Linked DNA regions of Homo sapiens: region 1 is linked to region 2. The links come from fine-mapping of genetic effects on gene expression. Tissue or cell type: transverse colon. Region 2 holds a variant in brackets; the other region holds the start of a gene. All regions are shown on one strand. Distances are from middle to middle.

Region 1 (8,050 bases), 150 kb after region 2:
CCCACACTTGGAACTGGACCCTCCCCAGAGGGTAGCTGGAGGGCACCTGTGGGATGAAAAAATCAAGACGCATCCCACGTAGGTCAGTCGGAGGCTTGAGTAATAAACTACTCGGGCCCTGTTCCTCAGCCCACTGCAGTCCACCAGGCAGGTGTCACGACATGAAGCGGGAGCCAAGCCTTTCCTCCCCAGCTTCGAGGGGGCTTGCAGGCCTGAACCTGGTTCCCTAGACAACTGCAGGGTCATCGTCAGCAAATATTGATGGAAGAATATTGCCAAGAGCTCAAGTCTGTGCCAGGAGCTGAAGAGTCAAAGAGGCAAAGATGAAGCCACTGGGCTTACGGGGACAAGACAGCATTCACAAGCAGAATGCAGCACTGAGGCTATCTGGGTATCTCAAGCGTGCTGGGTTTCCGGTGGAGCGCTCCAGTAGAGAAGCCCAGGAAGGCTTCTCAGAGGAGGCGTCCTTGGCCTCCTGCATTCATTTGGCACACATGATAGCTATGGTGTGGGTGTAACACTTTGGTGGGTATCAGATTCACCTGTGGAACTTGGTAAAAACACAGTGGCCCGAGTCCTCTTCTCCAGCAAGCCTGGGCCTCCAGATCATTCTGCTACACACCGAAGTTTGAGAACCACTAGGTTACCTCTGTGCAATAAATGCCTTGCAGCCAAGCAGTCCCAAAGCCTCAGTACCTGCTCCTCATCCTCAGCTGCCTCTAGGCTCCTGGTACTCAGTACAGCTTTTTTCTTTTTGATTTTTTTTTTTTTTTTTTTGAGACAGAGTCTTGATCTGTCTCAGCCTCCTGAGTAGCTGGGATTACAGGTGCGTGCCACCATGCCCGGCTAATTTTTGTACTTTTAGTAGAGATCAGGTTTCACCACGTTGGTCATGCTGGTCTCAAACTCCTGACCTCAGGCGATCCACCTGCCTCGGCCTCCCAAAGTGCTGGGATTACAGGTGTGAGCCACCGCGCGCAGCCTCAGTACAGCTTTTTTAAAAATCCAAACATAGCTCATTCTGCCCCTGTGACCCAGCATTATGACACAGTCCATGTCACCAGCACAGCCCAATGTCTCCCTTGCCTCTCTGTGGATTACAAACTTGGCGGGCAGCTGACCCAGACTCCAGAGCCTGGCCCGTGTCTTAGAGTCTGGCCGGGACTAATGCTCAGGGCTCCGTGGGAAAGGAATTGTCTTGAAATTGACCCTGAGGATCAGAAGCCTGTCAGTTCCTCTTGTCTTCAGCACTTTGATGTGTGTGCTGGTGAGAGGGGCAGGGGAGGGGAAGAAGCAGGGGATAGTGCTAGGTGAGAAATGCTTCATCCACTCAGCTGAGTGGATAGTGATGATATATGTGTGTGTAGACAGTTATATAAAGTTATATAACTTTATAAAAACTTAATAATTGAGTTAATTGGTCACAACGACCAGTCCTTCCAGAAAAGAACTGTTTCTGGTCCCAGCTTTCCTATTTATTCATAAGGTGTGGCCATTCATTTATTTAGGGGAACCATCACCTGGGTGACCAGGCGACGGTCCCCCTGGAAAGGAGGAGGGAGCAAGTTCAGCAGAGGAACTGGGGAGGCCTGGAGACCAGTCAAGAGAGAAAGACAAGCTGGTCGAAACTTTTGCCTTCCTGGGCGTGCCCGAAGGTAAGAAGGCCAAGGTCGAACTGGGAAGGGGTGGAAGAAGGGAGGGCAAGGGTCAGGTGAGGTGGGTACTTCCTGGAGCTGACCCCGGGGAGCAGGGGGCTTCTCAGGAAGGCTAGGCCATGGCCAGGCATCAGAGGAGCATCATCCGGAGTAAGGACGCTGCCCCTTGTGGACACTGGGCCCCTCCTCCCCCTCCCTTTCTGTCTGTGGGTCACATTTTAAACCCTGACTGCAAAATCTGGAGGCCCCACTGGTTGTAACTGTGGGCCAAGACAGCGGCATACTCATCCTACAACTCTCTACCCATGGGGTGCAAAGACCCGCTCAAGGGCTTGGAGAAGTCCTCAGACACGCTGTAGTGCATACTGCACCAGTGGACCGGCATACCATCAGCTGCAGCGGCCTGCCCCCGTGGGCACATGCACAGCTGGACACACCCGCATGCTCGAACAGAAGAATGAGGCTGCCACACGGTCCCAGCAGCTGCCTGCATCCTCCTTCTCCCAGGCTCACCTCCACAAAGAAAAGCAGCCAGATCTTGCTCCAGCGTTTGGACTCGGTGAGGGCCCCATGAGTGGCCAGGTGGCTGCCCTTGACAGTGAGTGTGTAGTGGCACACACCCAAGATGGTGATGCCGGATGCAAAGACCAGGGCATTCTCCCAGCGCAGGCACAGGAAGCCTGCGTGGAGAGGAGGAAGAAGACGGGTCTTTCTCTAGCTCTGGGTGATCTGGGCCCAAATACCTCAACCCTTACCCTGGGAGCCCAGGCTAAAGTGGGCTAGGCTCTGGGGGCTGCCACTGGCCGGAGTGAGGCAGGTCCCACTGTGGCCTGAGGGGAACCAGGACTGCCCCTCCAGCGGTCCTGACTCTCCCGTGCCTGGTCCTGACTCTCCAGTGCGTGGTCCTGGGCCCCCAGCCAAAGCAATGTTGGGGCCTCAGGTACCATGGGTGTTCCAGACCAGGAAGGGTCCAGGGGAAACTCCCACCCCCTCCCCACTCACCTAGGTCCCCAAAGAACACCGTCTCCCTTCCCGGGGGTGGGGGGGCACCTCATCACTCCCGGCCACTCCCCCGCTCCTCTCAACTTTCCCTTCCACCACCCTCCTGCGCCCCCTCCTAGGGTACACAGGGCAGAACACCCCAGTCCAGACTCTCAGGTTCGGGGTGTGACCCTCCATCCTTGGGTGCGGGGCCCCGACCACCTCCGCCTCCCTGCCGCCGCCAGTCCACTCCGCAGGCTGCACTCCCACGGCTGCTGTTGCAGACCCCGCGCCGCCACCTCCGCCGCACCCCGCCCCCACCCGCAGCCCGGCCGGGACGCCGGGTCCCCGCGTTCCTCACCTGCCGGCAAGGCGAAGAGGCTGAGCGCGAGGATGGCGCAGTCCACGCCGTGGCGCTCCCACCAGGAGCTCGTCCTCACCACGTCCTGCACCAGCACCTCCAGCTCCCGCAGCAGCGCCTCGCCCCCACGGTGCGCGCTCCGCGCCGGTTCCATGGGCTCCGTAGGTTCCATGGGCTCCGTAGGTTCCATGGGCTCCGTAGGTTCCATGGGCTCCGTAGGTTCCATCGGCTCCGTGGGTTCCATGGACTCTGTGGGCTCGGGCCCGACGCGCACGGAGGACTGGAGGACTGGGGCGTGTGTCTGCGGTGCAGGCGAGGCGGGGCGGGCCGGGGCGGAGTCACGCGCCGCCTGGGGACACCCGCCCCCGGGGTCAAGGTGCGAGACACCCTGGCTCCTCTGCTGCGGGCGCTGGCGACCCAGGCCCGGCTCAGGCGCGCGACCCTGGCAGGCGGCATCAGAACCGCCGCGGAGGGAGGAGCCAGGCCGATGAGCTGAGAGTGGCTAGGCGGGGAGGCGACCCTGCGGTGAGACCCAGCCCAGGTAGTAGGGACGGAGGCGTCAGGGGCACGGAGACCCCAGTGGAGACACCCCCCACCCCCGCCCCGCCCCGAGGGCCTTCCCTGACCTCCGACCTCAAATAACTCCCTGAGTTCCCTCGGTCCCTGAGATCTGTCCGAGCATTCTCTTCCCTCGACCCTGACTATTCGTAGTGGCACTGAGCAGCTCCCCTCGTACGTGACACACATGACACATGCTGTCGTCTGTCTCTGCCAACAGACGGACCCTCAGTGCCGTAGAGACGTCCTCGTTTTGCCCAAGCTCTGTCTTCAGTACCTAGGGCAATGCTTGGCACAGAAACATCTGGGAATTCCTAGGGCAGAAAGTTCAAGGACTCCCCACTCCCCCTCCCCGTGGGTCAAGGAGTGAGAGGTCCCCTCTGAGTATGGCTTCAGCAGAGGTGACCCAGGGGAGCTGGCTCTTCAGCCCAATAATGTTTTGGGTGAGACGGGTAGCTACAGGGAATACACATCCGGAGGTCATCATTCTGGGTGGGCAGGCAGACCAGCCGGGTCCCGCTGCCATTCCACTCCCTCAAGAGCGCCCAGGCCTGAACCCAGGGCCAGGGCCTCAGCCAAGCCCTCTGAGATGTGGGAGCCACACCTGTCACATCCCCTTCCCATCAGCCCAGGCCCCCACCCCGCACTGCTGGAGATGGCCTTGGTCCTCAGGGGATAAGCCTCTGTCCTCTACAAACTCCTCTTCCCTGCTTCTGAATACCCTTTCTCTTTTCTTTTTTGTTTTACTTACTCCCAGTTTCATGACTTAAGGGATCTGGTATGGTGAGGACAGTGGCATCTTTAGCAGGAGACCCCTAGGAAAGAGAAGTTGGGTGGGTGGGGTAAGGGAGAGACAGTCAGGGATCCTAATGACATTGATTCCTTTTGACTCCTTCCTGGTGTTTTCCTTCAGGAATTCTTTTTTTTCTCTCTTTGTTTAGAAACAGGGTCTCGCTCTATCACTCAGGCTGGAGTGCAGTGGCACAATCACAGCTCACTGCAGCCTCGATTTCCTAGGCTCAAGTGATCCTCCCCCTCAGCCTCCTGAGTAGCTTGGGACTACAGGCACACACGGGGACCACTAAGCCTGGCTAATCATGAATTCGTATGAGCTTATTCCTTTAATTCTTTATCAAAGAATAAGATTTATTTACCAGCTCAGTATTCTAAGGGACTGACAATTTAATAAACCAATTCTCACCAAGTGCACGTGCGCATATACCTGCCCCGCAGGTTATCATTGACTTTCACATACTGATGAGGTTTTGTGGATTCCCCACATCCCTCAAGGATGGCATCATCTAAGGCCAGGCGCGGTGGCTCACACCTGTAATCCCAGCACTTTGGGAGGCCAAGACAGGCAGATCACTTGAGGTCAGGAGTTCGAGACCTGCCTGGCCAACATGGTGAAACCCCGGCTCTACTGAAAATACAAAAATTAGCTGGACGTGGTGGCAGGAGCCTGTAATACAAGCTATTCGGGAGACTGAGGCAGAAGACTCGCTTGAAACCAGGAGGCAGAGGTTGCAGTGAGCCAAGTTCGCACCATTGCACTCCAGCTTGGGGGACAAGAGCAAAACTCCATCTACAAAAAAAAAAAAAAAAATAGGATGGCCTCATCTTCATTTAATCAACGGAGGCCCCAAGAGATGAACTGATCCGCCCAGCACTCCACAGTTAGTAAATGGCAGAATTAGAGCTGAATCCAGGAGCTTCTCCAAATGCAATGGTTTCCATGAGAGATTTTCTTTTTTTTTTTTTTTTGAGACAGAGCCTCGCTCTATCACTAGGCTGGAGTGCAGTGGCGCGATCTCCACTCACTGCAACCTCCAACTCCCTGGTTCAAGTGATTCTCCTGCCTCAGCCTCCCGAGTAGCTGGGATTACAGGCACGCACCACCACACCCAGCTAATTTTTGTATTTTTAGTAGAGACAGGGTTTCACTATGTCAGCCAGGATGGTCTCAATATCCTGACCTCGTGATCCACCCGCCTCGGCTTCCCAAAGTGCTGAGATTATAGGCATGAGCCACCATCTTAAGAGATTCTTAAGACAGATAAGGAAGAGTCGCCCTCCTCCCTCCCTTTCCCACTCTACCGTCAAATCCCTCCCTCTCTAGCATACTACAATTTTCAAGGAGGGGATATGTATAATTTGTAAAAGCATATGTGATATTAATATCCCATATTTTAAGCTTATAAGGAGATGTTATCATTTTTATCATATATGCCAGGAACTTCCTGGCACCAAGAAGCTCCTCTCCAGGCCCTGGCTCCCTCCTGGACATCCAAGTGGTACTGGACAGAGGTAAATGCTGAGCGCCAGAGGAAAGAACATGTTTCAGAGGAGCTCAGAGGAACAGGGATCCCTGTGGGGTAGGGCTGGCTGGTAGCCTCCCAAGAGAGAGGCAGACTTGATTTAGAACAGACTTAGCATGGTGGCTCACAACTATAATCCCAACACTCTGGAAGGCTGAGGTTCAAGGATCGCTTGAGCCCAGGAGTTGGAGGCTGCAGTGAGCGATGATTGCATTCCAGCCTGCACGACAGAGCAAGACCTTGTCTTAAAACAACAATGACAATAACAGCAAACAGACTACTTAAACCTCAGAGAGAAGGAAGAGAACCAAGTATTCTGGGTCCTCAAGGCATGGGCCAGGAGTAGAGTTTGAGAGATTGGTGGGAAAGGCAAGGGAAGGCAGGAAAGAAAGGCTGGGACCACGGGCTGGAGTGCCACAAAGGCAGACTGAGAAGCTGAGGTTTGTCCTCACAGGCATGGGAGCCATAGGAAGTTTCAGGGCAGTGGAGTGACTTGTGCAATGCTGTGTTCAGGAAGGTTTGTCTGGCACAATGGAGTAGCCACTGGAGTGAGGGGGACCGGAGTGAGGGGGACCAGTTTAGAGACGTTCCAGTCCCCCAAACATAAAGGTGCTAAGGGTGCAGATAGCAGAGGGAGGGACTGTGGAAATGATGATGGGGGTAACAAAATAAGGAAGAATTGAATAGACAGTTTACCAAAGAAGATATGCAAATGGCCAAGAAGCATGTGAAAAGATGCTCCCCATCATTAGTTTTTAGGGAAATGCTAATTTGAACACCAATAAGATAACCCTGCAGACCCACTAGAATGGCCAAAATTAAATAGACAAGGAAGGCTGGGCATGGTGGCTCACGCCCGTAATCCCAGCACTTTGGGAGGCCGAGGCAAGCAGATCACCTGAGGTCAGGAGTTCAAGACCAACCTGGCCAACATGGGGAAACCCCATCTCTACTAACAATACAAAAATTAGCTGGGTATGGTGGCATGTGCCTGTAATCCCGGCTACTCTGGAGGCTGAGGCAGGAGAATCGCTTGAACCCGGGAGGTGGAGGTTGCAGTGAGCTGAGATCGCACCACTGTACTCCAGCCTGGGTGCCAGAGTGAGACTCCGTTTCAAAAAAAAAAAAAAAGAAAAGAAAAAAGAAAAGAGTTTTATTTAAGTTGAACACATGCATATCCTAGATATATACTCAACAGAAAAGCAAAGAAACATACACAAATATTCATAGCAGCACTACTCAAAAGATAACAACTGGGCACAATGCAATTTTCTGCCAGCAGTGGAATAAATCAATAAACGGCGATGGGGGGATTACCACACAGCCCAAATCCAATGCCGAACAAATGGAAACCAGACACAAAACACCGATCAGATGATCCCATGTGTATAAAGTTCAAAAACAGACAAAATGAATCTATGGCATTAGAAGTTAGGATGGCTTTAACTGATTAGGGATAGTGACTAGAAGGGGGCATGAGGGGGTTCTCCAGAGGCTGATAAATGTTTTGTTTCTTAAACTGGGTTCTAGTTACCCTTGAGTGTTCAGTTTGTAACACTTCATCATGCTATACTGTTAGAGTATGTGCATTTTCCTGTCTAGGTGTTATATTTTAATTACAACAATTTTATATTTTCAAATGGTAATCACTTTTCTTTATTTTCTTTATTTATTTTGAGATGGAGGCTCATTCTGTCACCCAGGCTGGAGTGCAGTGGTGCAATCTCGGCTCACTGCAACCTCCATCTCCCAGGTTCAAGTGATTCTCCTGCCTCAGCCTCCCTCAGCAGCTGGGATTACAGGCATGTGCCACCACACCCAGCTAACTTTTTTGTATTTCTATTAGAGATGGGATTTCACCATGATGGCCAGGCTGGCCTCAAACTCCTGACCTCAAATGATTTGCCCACCTCGGCCTCCCAAAGTGCTGAGATTACAGGCGTGAGCTACCTTGCCCAGTTGGTAATTGGTTTTTGTAGAGGTATAAATCAGAAGGTAAAATCACCCCTAAACCCAGGACAGTGGAGCGGGGGAAGGCAGGGCGGGGCTGGCCTGTGGGTTCCCTTGGCCATGGGGTCGGCATGAGTGTGGGTGGGTGGTAGAGCGGCCAACCTACCCCTGCCAGCTGCCCCCAGAGTCTGAGTGACACCCCTCAACTCCTCCCTATCCCTCTCTGT
Region 2 (8,060 bases):
GAAGTGTTCAATAGAGAAAAGGTCTCACCCTGGCAGGTGGGGCTCTACAGCTTCAAGCAGGCAGAAAGCGAACACTTCCTTCACTAGAGAATTAGTGGGCAGCTAAAGAAAAGGTGCTGCTGCAGATGTAGCCTCAGGTCCCCAGGATGCAGGCAAACACCCCATCTCCAGGGGCTCGGTCACAGTCCCAAGGCTAGGCTCCAGGAGAGGGAGACCGAAGTGGGAAAAGGGCAGGGCCTCCAGCAGCAACCAGCCCTCCAGCCCTGGGCTGCCTGATCCCTGGAGAGAGCCAGGATGTTTCTCAGGCTCCTCTTGCCCTGCTGTTGTGAGAAGGCAGTTACAGTCCTCAGAAGGGACGACTCCACAGTGGAGGTGTCTGGGTATGGGGTTCCTGCTGCCCTGATGGTATGATCTGGCTGGAGACGGTTCTGGGGCTCACTGCACCCACTCTAGGCCTGGAGAGGGAACAAGACAGGACGTCTGCAGAGCTGAGGAGCCACATGACTCCTGCCCTCCCATCCTCTGCCTTTTTCTCTTTCAGAACAAGGTGGTGACTGTGGATGGCGTGAGAGTGAAGCTGCAGGTGAGACCAGAGGCTGGAGTTGGGGAGGGAGGATGGAGGACCTGCCCTTCCTTCTCACCCTGAACCACAGGAGGCCTGCAGCCCTGCCCTCCGCCTGGGGCAATTTCCTGTGGGGCCCACGGGAGGAAATGGCTTTTGTTTATTTGACATCTGCAGAAAAAGCAGTTCCCAGGCACCCTCTCATCTATGAACAGCAGCTCCAAATGCCTTCAGACAAGCTTAGCCTCCATCCATCTCCTCCCCAGTTGCCAGGGCTTTATCTGCTCTTAGGAGATTGGACATCCCCAACCCCTGAGCTAGGGGAGAGGAGAAGATTCTTTTTTTTTCTTTTCTTTTCTTTTTTTTTTTGAGATGGAGTCTCGCTCTGTCGCCCAGGCTGGAGTGCAGTGGCACAATCTCGGCTCACTGCAACCTCTGCCTCCCAGGTTTAAGAGATTCTCCTGCCTCAGCCTCCTGAGTAGCTGAGACTACAGGTGCATGCCACCACACCTGGCTAATTTTTTGTATTTTTAGTAGAGACGGGGTTTCACTGTGTTAGCCAGGATGGTCTGGATCTCCTGACCTCGTGATCCGCCTGCCTCGGCCTCCCAAAGTGCTGGGATTACAGGTGTAAGCCACCGCGCTCGGCTGAGGAGATGATTTTGAACGAGCTTGAGAAATCAGTAACTGCTACTGTCCAGGTCATTGGATGCTCAGGGGCTCATGAGAACCTAAAGAAGAAAACAGCCCCACCTTCCCACAGATATCTCATACAACAAAGCAGGCCTGCTCCACCCAGCACATTCCTTGCACCTGCCTCCTTCTGACCATTTCTCCATCCCATCCCTTCCCAGATCTGGGACACCGCTGGGCAGGAACGGTTCCGAAGCGTCACCCATGCTTATTACAGAGATGCTCAGGGTGAGTCCCTCGCACCCTCCAACCCCTACCCCAGCCCCTTGGTAGCATCCGTGCTGCTGCCTAAGTCCCCTCTGTGATCCTCTCCCCTCCAGCCTTGCTTCTGCTGTATGACATCACCAACAAATCTTCTTTCGACAACATCAGGGTAGGTCCTCCCTTCCCCTGACTCCCACCCATAAGCAGCCAAGGCAAGGTCTATGCAGGCTGGGGTTGCTTCCTGCCCTGTGGAAAGCGGGTGGAGCGTGGAGTCCTCCTGCCTTCTGAAAAACACCTACTTGTGACTCAGAAGTCATATCTGCTGCTTTGTATTTGGTGGCCATGTGGGCATGAAGGCCAAGCAGGCTGTTGTGACCCTGTGCCACCTGCATAGCCCTCACTGTGATTCACGAGTGTGTTTCGTGACAAAGTGTTCAGAACAGCCCCCACTCCACCCTGGATAATTATCCACAGAGACCAAGGGAAAAACACAACCAGAAAAGTCCACACATACATCCAGGGCAAGTTGCAAGAAAGTGACTCAGTCAGACAGAGTGAGTGGTTGTATCCTCACAACCAAACTATTATAGAGACAAAAATTTGATAAATTCAAGCACCAATTTTGTTCACGACATTGTATAGGTTTCATGAATCCCCTGACCTCAAGGACAGTTTGCTGATAAGCAAACTAGGAGAATAAAACGTTTATATAGAAAGAGGAAAATCCATGGCACTCATACTCCTACCTCCAACCCCATGCTCATGGCAGACATCACTAATCAATCACAGTACTTTTGATCACTGAAACCCTTATGTGGTCTTAGAATCTTTAACAGGACACTCCAAGAAATCACTGCTGACAGCCAACTGATTTGTGAGATAAGGTCTCCATGCATCTGGATCTTCCATAGAACTGATAGTTGCACAGCATAAAATGGTGAGGGTGGGGCCATTGTGGGTTGAGCCACCAAGGAAGGCCATCCAGGCCTGGATGGGCCAGAACAAAGGTACAGATGAGAGAACGCACAGGGTATCGTGTTCAAGGTAGTGAGTAACTGAGGATAGTCAAACGGAGCAGAAGAAGAAAGGGGCAGCAGGAGGAAGAGAATGCCAGTCTCGCACGCCCTCTCCCACAGGCCTGGCTCACTGAGATTCATGAGTATGCCCAGAGGGACGTGGTGATCATGCTGCTAGGCAACAAGGTGAGTGGCTCCGGGGCAGGGTCAGCCCAGCCCTGCACTTCCTCAGCCCTAGCCGGCCCCATAACCACCCAAGAACAGTTATCTAGGCATCCTTCCTGAAAAGGACTCTGCAGCCTCCAGCTCAGGGGTCAGACATATCTGGAGGCTTCTGCCCATCCCATCTGCCCCTTCCAGGGAAAGTCCAAGTTGTTGCCTGAGAAATCAAGGGGTGCCCAGTTCTCAGCCCCCATTAGAGCAGAGTGAACAGGGTCCCAGGTCAGGGGCTAAGAGTGCAAAGGGTTAGCCCCAACTGCTGTCCTATTCCAAGACCCTTTACCAAAGGTGAGATCCCAGAGCTGGGAGCTACACTGGGCAGAAACCCTGGCCCCAGGCCAATCACACCTGCCTGCAGTCCCTTGGGCCACCAGCAGAGGGCAGGCAACGCCTGCTTCTGGGGCAAAATATGGGCCCGCTGGGGCGGAGGCCTCCTTCCCCAGAGTGACCCATTTGGGCTTGACAGGCGGATATGAGCAGCGAAAGAGTGATCCGTTCCGAAGACGGAGAGACCTTGGCCAGGGTAAGTGATTGTCTGTGGGACAGGGTGAAGGGTGGGGGCAACCCGACGCTGGCCCTGAGGACACTCTCTCCCGGGCAGGAGTACGGTGTTCCCTTCCTGGAGACCAGCGCCAAGACTGGCATGAATGTGGAGTTAGCCTTTCTGGCCATCGCCAAGTGAGAGC[T/TGGGCA]GGGCAGGGAAGGGAAGTGTGCGGGGCAGGGCGGCACACTCCAGGAATCCAGTAGGGCCCGGCCCCTGGCCCAGCCCCTGGACACACCTGCATTCTGCAGGCTGAGGTCCATTTGCTCTGGGAGCACTGGGCCACTGGGAGAGGGGAGGGGGCGGCTCAGCTCCTCACCCCAGCCCAGCCCAGCCCAGCCCAGCCCATTGTCTCTTCTTCAAGGGAACTGAAATACCGGGCCGGGCATCAGGCGGATGAGCCCAGCTTCCAGATCCGAGACTATGTAGAGTCCCAGAAGAAGCGCTCCAGCTGCTGCTCCTTCATGTGAATCCCAGGGGGCAGAGAGGAGGCTCTGGAGGCACACAGGATGCAGCCTTCCCCCTCCCAGGCCTGGCTTATTCCAAGAGGCTGAGCCAATGGGGAGAAAGATGGAGGACTCACTGCACAGCCGCTTCCTAGCAGGGAGCTATACTCCAACTCCTACTTGAGTTCCTGCGGTCTCCCCGCATCCACAGGGAGGGTAAAACACTTAGCTTTTATTTTAATAGTACATAATTTAATACCAAAAAAGGCGCCTGGATCCCCAAAAAACCGAGGCTGGGAGCTAGTGGCCCTTTTGCTTTCTAGGACTTGGGGGGCCGGCCCTCCCTCCTAAGCATAACAAAGGTGGTGTTGCTCCAGCTCAGCCCCAGGGGACACAGATGCACTTTGGGGGTGAGGGCAGGTAATGACTCCATCGCACCCTCAGTTCAGCTGGACAGAGGCTCAGGTGACCCCAGCCTTCACTGTCTCCCGCTCTCCAGGAGCTTATCTTCGCCCCATCTCCCAAATAAGTGGGCCCTTGTGCTGTGAGGAAGACCAAAGCCTCAGGGAAGATAAGAGATATGGAGATGGGAGGGGGAGGACAAGGGGCAGAGAGTAGGGTCTAGCTGGCTATCTCTGGCCTTACTAACACCCCCCTGGAGGCATGCCCCTTTTCTCCAGCACACAAGCACATTGGGGCACCTGGAAATATTGGTTCCAGGCTCCTGTTCTCTGGACTTCAGATCCTGGGGGAGCCCCTCCCCCCCCTGAATCCCTGGCTTAGCTACCTTCCTGCCTGTGCACCTAAAAACCTCAGGTCAGAACTAGGAAAAGAGTTTTGTTTTTATTTTTTTGAAATGGAGTCTCGTTCTGTCGCCCAGGCTGAGGTGCAGTAGTGCAATCTCCGCTCACTACAACCTCCACTCCCTGGGGCTCAAGCGATCCTCCCACCTCAGCCGCCGAAGTAGCTGGGACTATAGGTGTGTACCATCACACCTGGCTAATTTTTGTATTTTTTGTAGACACAGGGTTTCGCCATGTTGCCCAGGCTGGTCTTGAATTCCTGAGCTCAAGCAACCTGCCGGCCTCGGCCTCCCAAAGTACTGGGATTACACGCAGAAGGCACCATGCCCAGGCTAGATGTGTCTTATCCCAATCCTTTGGCAGGCATGCAGCTCCACAGGCGATTTCTTCAAGCAGCTGAAGTGTTTAGCCCTCCTGGGTTAAGAGCCAGATAAGGAGAAATCCCTTTCCTAGGTTTGGAATGTGTTGTGAAAAAAAAGAGAAATCCCTGGCTCCTGGAGCTGGTGGGAGACAAGATTAAGCAAACCTCCCCTGACATGTATCCCTTTGACCCCAAGCTCTGCCTCCTCCCTGACCACCCATGCCCTTTCCTTTAACTTCTCAAACAGATACCAGGGCCTAAACTGCTTTACCTCCCCTCCTACTGAGTCAGGTTAGGTGGTGGGAGGTCACCCATTTCCGAGTTAAACCAATGCAATATGAGTAAAACAAAGTCATGTGGGTATGTCTGGGGTAGAGAGAGGGGTAGCAAGTTCATGTGTCCTCCTTGGTCACATATCTCCCAAAGCTCCGATCCCTGCCATGGGAAGTGGACAGGAAACATGAGGTCATGACCTGCAGGCATCTTTACTGCAGCTCTGCCGGCCTGGAGGGGGAGAGGGGGAGGAAGAAGTATGCGCTGCACATTTCTGAGGCTACTGCATTTGCTTTCAAGGCAGAAATCTTGCTCTGAGCAGTCAGCGGCTCCAGTTTGGGCCCGATAAGGAAGTTCTCCGTGGCCTCCCTCAGGCAGAGCAGGGAGGAGGCTGACATTGCCAGTCTCTTCTGGGGCCCAAGGCAGGTTGCAGGAGATCCAATCCCATAGACAGCTCTGGGCCTCTTGCATTTGAGTTTTTCAGAATTAAACTGCAGTATTTTGGAAAGCACATCCTGTCCACTGTTTCTTTGAAGTGAGTGGGGGGGGGGGGTCTTGTTGAAGGAATTGTCATTCACTGCCAAAATCATTCCATCCTCCTTCCTCAGTGTCTGTCCTCAGATGGTCAGCTCCCCGCTCAACAGACTGTCTCCCGCCTCTGTGACCAGCCTCTCTTTGGCAAGAGGGAGCTAGAAGGCTTTACAGTCCTAATCATTTTTCTGTTGGAAAAAAAAAAAAAAAACCAAGGCTCCTTTCCCTGTGGCGTGTACCCAGAGGTTGATTACCTGAGTCTGTCCTGCCTCTCCCCACCCCACCTCCCTAGCCAAACGCTGCTGCCAAAGCCCACGCTATTGCCCTAGATGGCCTGTCTTCAGCGGGCTGCCCCTCGAGGTCCCAGGCTCTCCGCGGAGCCCTCACCTTCCCAGCAGGGATCAGAACCTGCACTCCTCTATGCGAGTCCTGGGACAGCACAAAGTGGATTAGGGTTAGGGTTCCCACAAACGGAAAAATGTTATTCAAACAACTCTGTAGGGTCCGAGGAGGCCCTCCGTCTTAATTCTCGAGACTGACCGGCCCTCGCTGCCCCGAGCGGGAGCAGTTGCCCCGGCAACAGCCGCTCCCTCTCAACTGGAGCTGCACCCAGGCTTTGGCTAAAGGCTGTTAAAACGTTGGCCAGGTGCGGTGGCTCACGTCTGTAATCCCAGGGCGGATCACCTGAGGTCAGGAGTTTGAAACCATCCTGGCCAACATGGCGAAATTTCGTCTCTACTAAAAATACAAAAATTAGCGGGGCGTGGTGGTGCGCGCCTGTAACCCCAGCTGCTCGGGAGGCTGAGGCAGGGGAATCGCTTGAACCCGGGAGGCGGAGGTTGCAGTGATCCGAGATCGCGCCACGGCAGTCCAGCCTGGGCGACAGAGCGAGACTCCGTCTCAAAAAAAAAAAAAAAAGTTAGGGTCCTTTACCCGAGGGCCGGCTTTCCTCACTCCCCGCCACAGGTAGGGGAAACCAGGCCGGAGCCGGCGGGCCCACCCGCCCAGAACCGGGAATTCGGCGAGCCCCGCCCCTGCCACCCCAGCGCCGGCCGCTCGGTAACAAACACTTCCACTTCCTGAGCGCTAGTCTTCGCCCGCCGCGGGGCGCCGCGCCGAGCGCAGGCCCCGCCCCGCGCGTTCCCAATGGCCGGCGCCGTTCACCCGGCCGGAGCGCCCAGGCCTGCAGCCCCCTATTGGCCCGCGGAGGTCCCCACCCTCAGCGCGGCCCCGCCCCCGGGGTAAGGAGCCGGGGCGGACTCTGGGACGCTCAGACGCCGCGCGGGGCGGGGATTGGTCTGTGGTCCTCTCTCGGCTCCTCGCGGCTCGCGGCGGCCGACGGTTCCTGGGACACCTGCTTGCTTGGCCCGTCCGGCGGCTCAGGGCTTCTCTGCTGCGCTCCCGGTTCGCTGGACGGGAAGAAGGGCTGGGCCGTCCCGTCCCGTCCCCATCGGAACCCCAAGTCGCGCCGCTGACCCGTCGCAGGGCGAGATGAGCGCGGACGCAGCGGCCGGGGCGCCCCTGCCCCGGCTCTGCTGCCTGGAGAAGGGTCCGAACGGCTACGGCTTCCACCTGCACGGGGAGAAGGGCAAGTTGGGCCAGTACATCCGGCTGGTGGAGCCCGGCTCGCCGGCCGAGAAGGCGGGGCTGCTGGCGGGGGACCGGCTGGTGGAGGTGAACGGCGAAAACGTGGAGAAGGAGACCCACCAGCAGGTGGTGAGCCGCATCCGCGCCGCACTCAACGCCGTGCGCCTGCTGGTGGTCGACCCCGAGACGGACGAGCAGCTGCAGAAGCTCGGCGTCCAGGTCCGAGAGGAGCTGCTGCGCGCCCAGGAAGCGCCGGGGCAGGCCGAGCCGCCGGCCGCCGCCGAGGTGCAGGGGGCTGGCAACGAAAATGAGCCTCGCGAGGCCGACAAGAGCCACCCGGAGCAGGTAAGCGGGGCCCAAGCCGCGCAGGCTGGCATGGAGTGGGAGGAGGATCCGGAGAGACCCAGGTGCCCCGGCCGTCCAGCCCCGCGCCCGCCGTCGTTTTTCTGAAACTCGAGCTGCGAGGGGGAGACCGCTTCCGCCCGCCGACCAGGCGCCCTGACACATCCTAGGCAGGCCTGGGGCTGCGTCCCGCGACCTCCTCTCCTTCCCAGGCTGTGCTGGGAGCTTGAGCGCCTTTGCCGCCTGCACCTCTTGTTCCCTGGCCTTTGGGAGGGCGGCGCAGGGGAACCCAGCCCCCTTCCCTCGGGTCTGTGGGTGTCTGCTCCCGTTCCTCGGAATCCCCCAATCCTGCTCCTTCCCTGGTGCCCTCTCCTCGTTCACCCCAGTCCGCAGATGGGCCGGGGAGAAAGGGCTCTCCGCCCCAGAGGTGCCAGCTTCGCCCGCCACTCCTACTTCAAAAGCTAGAGGAATAGCATTACTCCTCCTGT

Direction of the effects. Alleles are on the strand shown, and positions count from the first base shown. SD is a standard deviation of normalised expression in the study named.
For the expression in transverse colon of the gene that starts at base 3,279 in region 1, T is the high allele of the variant in region 2 and TGGGCA is the other (moderate effect, 0.69 SD a copy in GTEx).

The links. PIP is the estimated chance that this variant, and not a neighbour inherited with it, causes the effect.
Region 1: FADS6 starts here. The variant in region 2 is fine-mapped to the expression of FADS6 in transverse colon (GTEx, PIP 0.99).

What each region holds. Positions count from the first base shown.
Region 1 is chr17:74,890,355-74,898,404 of GRCh38, forward strand. FADS6 (fatty acid desaturase 6) reads right to left here and starts at 3,279. Exons shown (of 6, transcript NM_178128.6): 1 at 2,998-3,279; 2 at 2,169-2,335. The coding sequence starts at 3,241.
Region 2 is chr17:74,741,713-74,749,772 of GRCh38, forward strand. RAB37 (RAB37, member RAS oncogene family) reads left to right here. Exons shown (of 9, transcript NM_001006638.3): 3 at 542-583; 4 at 1,417-1,483; 5 at 1,576-1,628; 6 at 2,596-2,661; 7 at 3,161-3,217; 8 at 3,296-3,372; 9 at 3,594-5,623. The coding sequence ends at 3,699. NHERF1 (NHERF family PDZ scaffold protein 1) reads left to right here and starts at 6,916. Exons shown (of 6, transcript NM_004252.5): 1 at 6,916-7,575. The coding sequence starts at 7,135. It overlaps SLC9A3R1-AS1 (SLC9A3R1 antisense RNA 1), which reads right to left. Exons shown (of 3, transcript NR_187307.1): 1 at 7,351-8,060; 2 at 6,861-7,215; 3 at 3,888-5,831. MIR3615 (microRNA 3615) reads left to right here and starts at 6,901; the gene lies at 6,901-6,987. RefSeq lists enhancers at 840-989, 5,470-6,065, 7,354-7,979 and a silencer at 6,460-7,149. The variant T/TGGGCA (reference allele first, on the strand shown) is at 3,381.